Linked DNA regions of Homo sapiens. The protein of the gene in region 2 interacts with the protein of the main gene of each other region in a pairwise test. Each region holds a gene or a part of one and is shown on either strand. Other genes may lie near its edges.

Evidence for each region. The genes of interacting proteins can lie anywhere in the genome.
Region 1: the proteins of FAM13A (region 2) and FLNB interact in a two-hybrid assay, tested with the Homo sapiens proteins (one study listed by IntAct).

Annotation. Positions count from the first base shown.
Region 1 is NC_000003.12:58,165,276-58,169,028, reverse strand, and holds part of FLNB (filamin-B), read right to left. Parts: exon of another isoform or gene 2,914-3,753; intron 590-2,913; coding exon 371-589; intron 1-370. UniProt on the Homo sapiens protein: Connects cell membrane constituents to the actin cytoskeleton. May promote orthogonal branching of actin filaments and links actin filaments to membrane glycoproteins. Anchors various transmembrane proteins to the actin cytoskeleton.
Region 2 is NC_000004.12:89,055,280-89,059,032, forward strand, and holds the start of FAM13A (protein FAM13A), read right to left. Parts: upstream 1,907-3,753; 5' UTR 1,686-1,906; coding exon 1,659-1,685; intron 1-1,658.

The DNA of each region.
Region 1 (3,753 bases), on a different chromosome or scaffold from region 2:
TTTGGAGGAGACACATTTTTATAAGTATAGGAAAACTTTTTGATTATTTTTCAAGTGAAAATTAGAAATCAGGGGATTTTTCAGACCCTGATCTAAACAAATACGTAAGATTTCAATATGTATTCTTTCCTGTTAGAGATAGAAAACCACCTAACATCCTAACATGCTTTCTCAACTTCTGCACGGCTCCACTCTGTGGACTTTTGTAAGTTTCAAACACTGCCCTCTGACATCTCATACTATTTACTGACATTCAAAGTTCAAAGTAGCTTTAACACATCTAAAACCATCCATAGTTTCCACTATGATTGATCTGACACAACCAGCTCCCCAGGAAGGGAGAGTAACTCCGAAGGTGGTTGTTCGTTACCTGTCACCTTGGCCTTGAAGGGACTGCCCACGATGTGGTTGGGCCCACCGTATTTGACGCTGATCAGGTAGTTACCAGGAGCCATGGGGGTGTACATGACTTTGTACCCTTCAGGTGTTTCCTGGCAATCCATTTTAACCTTGGATGGGCCTTCGATGGTGACGGATAATGTCCCTGGACCTGCTCGGGTGGTGTTAATAAAGAATTCCGACTGGATACCTGGGAGAAAGGAATAGAAAATGCTGTGTTGATGACTTGGAGGGCTTTCCTGGGAGCACTGAGGCCGTGGTGAGGGACACACATAGATCCCCTTACAGAGGGCTCACCCTGGTGGCATGGGAACCCACTGGCACTAGCTCTGAACTTCTGGCAGAGAGAACCTCAGGCCCTGCGGGGTGGGGGCTCCCTTTTCTAGGCCAAGGCAGGAGGAGCATGGCTGACATTTCGCCCACAAGCACCAACAGCCTGGACACCCTGTTCTCTCCTCTGGGCATGAGCCATTGTGGCTGAGGGCAAGAAGCCTGAGTCACACTGTGAGCCTGAAGTGCTGCTTCAGCCACCAGAGTCCAGCTCTCCCTCCAGGGGTGTGGGGGAGGCGTGGGCCCCTCTGACTGTCCTTTCTTCTCCGGGTAGACTTGGAGAAGCCAGGGAGGCCAAGCATCTCCTCCCTTCCTCCTCAGCCCTCACCCCAGGCACTGTGCTGCAGACCGGGTGCAGCCACTGTGACCTGCCAGCCCACCCACTTTGCCGTGAATTCCAGCAACAAGCACAGGAACAGAACAGCAGCTCCCGCTGACGGGGCATGCGTACCCCACTCCGGCTCCAGGTCCTGTGCACAGCACCATTTACGCATGTGGTATGGAATCCTTTCCGTGATTCCTGCTTCACAAATGACTCTGCGGCTCAGGGAGGGGGCCAGTCACGCTACACAACCAGAAAGTGGTAGAGCCGGGTTTGAACCATGTCTGCATGGCTCTGGTGCCAGGCTCATCTCTTGACCCCTGGATGGGCAGTGGAGCTGCCTCAGATCCCCTAACTGCAGCCCTGAGACAACTTAGCTGGCCCAGGGAGAGCCTCCTTCAGTCATCAGGTCTGGCGCATGCCTGCTACAGTGCCCTCTATGGGGCATGCCTGGCATAGCATCCCCATGCAGGGCTATGCTTCTGCCAGAGCCCTAGACACTGCCCCAGCTGGGAAATATTTTGGTTTAATTATAGCTCCTAGTCCAGAGAAAGAATTATTGTTCTGGATATCAATAAAAACAAAAGAGCTGCTATCGTGCAACTCTCAAACACAACCCAGCTGTTCCTGGAAGCTCTTGAGGCTCCTGCCCCAAGGTCCACCCCCAACACTATCTCAACCTCATCATGGTATCTAATCTGTGCAGCCAAGAAGCCCCTCAAGCAGCAGCTCTGAGGCCTGGGGCTACGTAGGGAAGAAGCGGGAGGTGAGCAACAAGGAGACAGTGTGTCCATCCAGGAAGCAGCTGTAAGGTGATGATAAGGAAAGATATTTTATTGATTGATTGATTGAGATAGAGTCTCGCTCTGTTGCCCAGGCTGGAGTGCAGTACCATGATCTTGGCTTATTGCAACCTCCGCCTCCCAGGTTCAAGCGATTCTCCTGCTTCAGCTTCCTGATTAGCTGGGATTACAGGCACTCGCCACCATGCCCAGCTAATTTTTGTATTTCTTTAGTAGAGATGGGGTCTCACCATGTTGGCCAGGCTGGTCTTGAGCTCCTGACCTCAAGTGATCTGCCCACCTTGGTCTCCCAAAGTGCTAGGATTACAGGCATGAGCCAACGCACCCGGCCTTATTACTAATATTTTTTTTTTTAGATAAAGTCTTCCTCTGTTGCCCAGGCTGGAGTACGGTGGCATGATCACAGCTCACCACAGCGTCAATCTTCCAGGCTCAAGCCATCCTCCTGCCTCAGCCTCCAAAGTAGCTGGGACTTCAGGCATGCACCACCACGCCTGGCTAATTTTTAAATTTTTTTGTAGAGATGGGGTTTTGCTGTGTTGCCTGGGCTGGTCTCAAACTCCTAGGCTCAAGTGATCCTCCCACCTCCACCTCCCAAAGTGCTGGGATTACAGGTGTGAGCCACTGTGCCAGGCCAAAAAGATATTTTTAAAGTGAAGTTGAAATGATGTGGCTGCAGGGGAAAGTTCCACCATTTTTTAACAAGCTGTTTCATTCCTAAGTTCGTCTTTAAAAATTTTTTTTTTTGGTAGAGATGGAGTTTTACTATGTCACCCAGGCTGGTCTCAAACTCTTGGCCTCAAACAATCTTTCTGCCTTGGCCTTCCAAAGTGCTTTGATTACAGGCATGAGCCACCGCACCCATTTGGCCCTAATGCAATATTTTGACCAACCAAAAATCAGTTCATCTTGACTGTGAGGGCCCAAAAGGGCAGGGAAGACGAGGTGGGAAAAGAGAAAGCAGGGGTTATGGGACAAGAGCTACTACTTGGCTGTTACCTCCTCTACAGCTCCAAACAAGCCTATTAGGTGGGTCCTGTTATTAATCCTGTTTTACAGGAAAGGAAGCAGAGGCACAGTGAAGTCAGATAATTCATCTGGAGTCACACAGCTGGGGACCAGCAGAACTGGGATTTAAACATAAAGTCTGTCCAACTTGGAGCTAAAGCACTTACCTGAGAGAAGATGGAAGGAAAAAAATCCACAAGCAGAAGTCTCTCACCACTGCCTCTAGCTATAACCTGTATCTGACACCACAAAACATCTCTGGGCGTGGCGGTCTTCCCCCACCCCCTCAAATATGTCCAGCTCAGTTCCTGTGAGTTTAATGCATGTTAAACGCAGCACTGCTTGTTCTTCAAGGCAGTTAAGGAAGGAGGCCCTTCTGGTATACCCCGAGCACACTGGGGTTCCTGGACCATTTCATTAGGAAAATTGCTCAGCGGCTCCAAAGAATCTGGAGCTCCCTGGTCTATCTCCCAGCCTCTCAAGCCGCCTCCAGCAGGGTCCCGCCCCAAATTCTCCACATTCCCCTACTCCAAAATCTACAGAATGGACCATTTAAAGCTTGAGCCAAGAGATACAGCAAACTCACCCATTAAAAACAGAGGGAGGTTTGCTTTGTTCAGAAGGTCAGGATACTGGGCGCTCTGGCGGCCAAGCACAGATACCTTTTCATTCCATGCACACTGCAGCTGTGTAATCTCAGAATGGATATTTAGGGAAAGGCTTGGGAGCAGGAGGGCTGGAAAAACAAGGCGCCTTCCCTGTGACAAGAGCAATATTTACACAGGGTTTGAAGCAGGCGGTTCTGTACCTCTCCCCTCCTGGCTAGGAGCTTCCCTGCAAGAGCAACTCCTTCTCTCAGCAGCGTCCAGCACTTGCAGAGCACAGCCTGAA
Region 2 (3,753 bases):
AACTGTTGAAAATGTATTTCCTCCTACAGTAAAACCAAGACAGCACAATCAAAGGCCAACCTTAAGGAGAAGGGTAGAAATGATTGAGAATTACTCATCTACCAGAGTGAATAATCTCTTACACTGTGTGATTTTTATGTCAACTTTAACTGAAATTTTATACATGCTTTGGATATAAATTAAGGGAAAATATAAAGTTTTATACATGAGTCAGTGTGCATTCCAGTCAAGGTAGAGATCAATATATTGCAGGTCAAGGGAAAGAAGTAAAGATCTAATCAGACAATCAGAGATGACTACCAATCTTCATGACCTATCTGCTGCCTCATTCTACACATTTTCAGTTCTGTATTGTTTCTTTTATAAAGCTAGAAAAATAGAAGGGCCACCTCTGCAGTAAAGTAAAAGTCAGTATTTTACACATAGATAAATCAGATTTTGAAGGAAACTCTTTGGGGTGATAAAAAAAGAATAACCACATGGATACCTGGATGCTACTAAGCCTCAGAGTTAAAAGGAAGACAGAGTGACATACATGGTGCTGAAAAGTTTTGAGCCTGGAAACAAGGTCATCCTGCAGTTTCACTAAGAAAACTTAATCTATAGGGCTGGTCTACCATTTGGTGACCATTTGGTGACCATTTGGTGTCTGTGTGTCAAAAATTGCTCAGATATTTCTAAACACTTCAGAATGCCATCAGAAGCTACAGCAAATTGCAGCTCTTTCTGAAACACACACAAAAAAAGAGGATCTGGCCTGAGTGTGATTTTTTAAGTGAGCAGTTAAGGTGATAATAAGGAAGAAGATATTTCTCATTTAATACATTCTAGAAAATAAAATGTCCCTATGGAATACAATAGCAACTTGAAACATAAATATGTGTAATTCTCATACAGATATATGCATTTTCTATATAGTACAATCAAAATTTAAATTACAGCATTCTGCAAATTATATAATTGACAATTTTTGATTATTACAAAAGGTTTTGTACAAGCACCAGCAGAATAATTTAGAAATTCATAAATTCTAAAAATTCTAAAACTCCAGAAATATGCACATTTTCCCAAGGATTTTATTTCAGTGTTATTTATTAATGCTACTGTGTTATAACAACCATTCATTTCTACAGTTTAAGGATACACAAACATTTATCAACTGAGCTTCTCCACCATCACTTTCAGCAATCATGCTGAAACAGAAACTCCAGAATTACTAAACGAAAATAGAAATATAAAACAGAAAAATGTCACACACATACTCAAAAGTAATAAATTAATGGTTACTTCAATTCCTCCTCAAGCTAGCCACAAGATTTCTCTAATAGCTATAATGAAGCATTCATGTTTAACTATTCAGGGACAAGAAAGTCTAAAATGCTTGAAAGTGCTCTACTTTAAATCAAGTTGACTTAACGGAATAAATCAGCATGCATCTTTCACCTTTTTTGGAAACTAAAGTGCACAAATATGCTGAATGCCATCCCAAATCCTGCCTAATACCCATTTAAGTAGATAGGAATTTAAGTAACAAATCTTTCCCCACCTCCTGGGAAGGAAAAATAAGTTACACAAACATCTCATCAAAACAAGGAAGGCAAGGCCCTCTCCTAAAAACTGGCAGTAAACACAGAAGACAGAAGAAGGCCTATACTTACACAGATGGCTAGAGCTCCTGCCCCCATTCTCTCAGAAAGCGTCTGGAAGAACTGAGGAAGACCAGACGAAAATATTAAAACGACAGCAAAATACTAAAATTCCATTCAGCACATATTCTTTGATGTGAAAAACAGCTCCCAATGCAAAGGCCCCAAGGTAAGCGAAGAGCAGCTTCTAACATTTTAGGAAGAGTGGTTTTGCTTCTCTTTCCGCTGAACCCACATGGCTGGAAGGACTGCCTGGAGTTGAAATTTGATCCACAGCCTCAGTGCTGGCAAGTAGAGGGAGTCACGTGACACGGGTCTTAAGTCGCTGACATCTTTTTTTCAAACCTGACTCCCTAGATCCTACACACAGGCTTCTTTGACTCCGAAAACTGCCAGTCACCTGGTGGCTTTCATTAATAGAACCAACAGTGCATAAAGTGAAAACACAGACTTGCTTCCCAGATTCCACACAGCTCTAAGCAAAATGTACGTATTCAGACTCAGGTTTAAAACTGCAGGCACATTATTCATTTTTTCTGAGGCAGTTTTCTCTTCTACTCTTCCTTAGAAACCAGCTAAATTCTACCAAAATTTTCTTCCTTCCATGCTACCCCATCAGAATTGTTTTAAATGAAAATGCTCTATTTTATGTAGCCGTTACTACTTCTAATTATGTATGAGTTGTCTTATAAAAATATACTGATGATAAACATAAACAACATACTTCTAGACAACCATAATTCTACATATGTGATTTGCAGTCTGAAAAATTAGCTAACTGACTTTTCAATAACTTTCTCTTCCACATGCTGTCACTAGAAAATTTGATAGATTTTAAAATTTACAAATATTTGAACTAATAGCTAAAATAGCCACTTCAGGTAAGCCAAAAGGAAACTATCCTATTTTTATTTTTGTTACCATTTTTTCTGTCAATTTGTTTTTCTTTTTTCTTTTGCTGTACCTATTGACCCATCCTCTAAGTTCTCTCCCCTCACCCCCAACCTCCCAACAGGCCCTGATGTGTGTTGTTTCCCCTTTGTGTCCATGTGTTCTCAATGTTCAACTCCCACTTATGAGTGAGAACATGTGGTGTCTGGTTTTCTGTTCCTGTGGTAGTTTGCTGAGGATGACGGCTTCTAGCTTCATACATGTCCATGCAAAAGACATGATCTTGTTCCTTATTATGGCTGCATAGTATTCCATGGTGTATATGTACCACATTTTCTTTATCCAGTCTATCATTGATGGGCATTTGAGTGGGTTCCATGTCTTTGCTATTGTAAACAGTGCTGCGATAAACATATGTGTGTATGTGTCTTTATAGCAGAATGATTTATACTCCTTTGGGTATATACCCAGTAATGGGACTGCTGGGTCAAATGGTATTTCTGGTTCTAGATCCTTGAGGAATCTCCATACTGTCTTCCACAATGGTTGAACTAATTACATTCCCACGGACAGTGTAAAAGCGTTCCTATTTCTCCACATCCTCTCTAGCATCTGTTGTTTCCTGACTTCTCAATAATTGCCATTCTAACTGGCTCGAGATAGTATCTCATTGTGGTTTTGATTTGCATTTCTCTGATGATCAGTGATGGTGAGCTTTTCTTCATAGGTTTGTTGGCTACATAAATGTCTTCTTTTGAGAAGTGTCTGTTCATATCCTTTGCCCACTTTTTGATGGGGTAGTTTGTCTTTTTCCTGTAAATTTGTTTAAGTTCCTTATGGATTCTGGATATGAGACCTTTGTCAGATGCATAGTTTGCAAATATTTTCTCCCATTCTGTAGGCTGCTTGTTCACTCTGATGATAGTTTCTTTTGCTGTGCAAAAGCTCTTTAGTTTAATTAGATCCCATTTGTCAATTTTGGCTTCTGTTGCCATTGCTTTTGGCATTTTTGTCTCTGCCCATGCCTATGCCCTGAATGGTATTGCCTAGGTTTTCTTCTAGGGTTTTTATAGTTTTGGGTTTTACATTTAAGTCTTTAATCCATCTTGAGATAATTTTTGTATAAGGTCTAAGGAAGGGGTCCAGTTTCAGTTTTTTGCATATAACTAGCCAGTTTTCCCAGGACCATTTACTGAATGGGAGATCATTTTCCCAT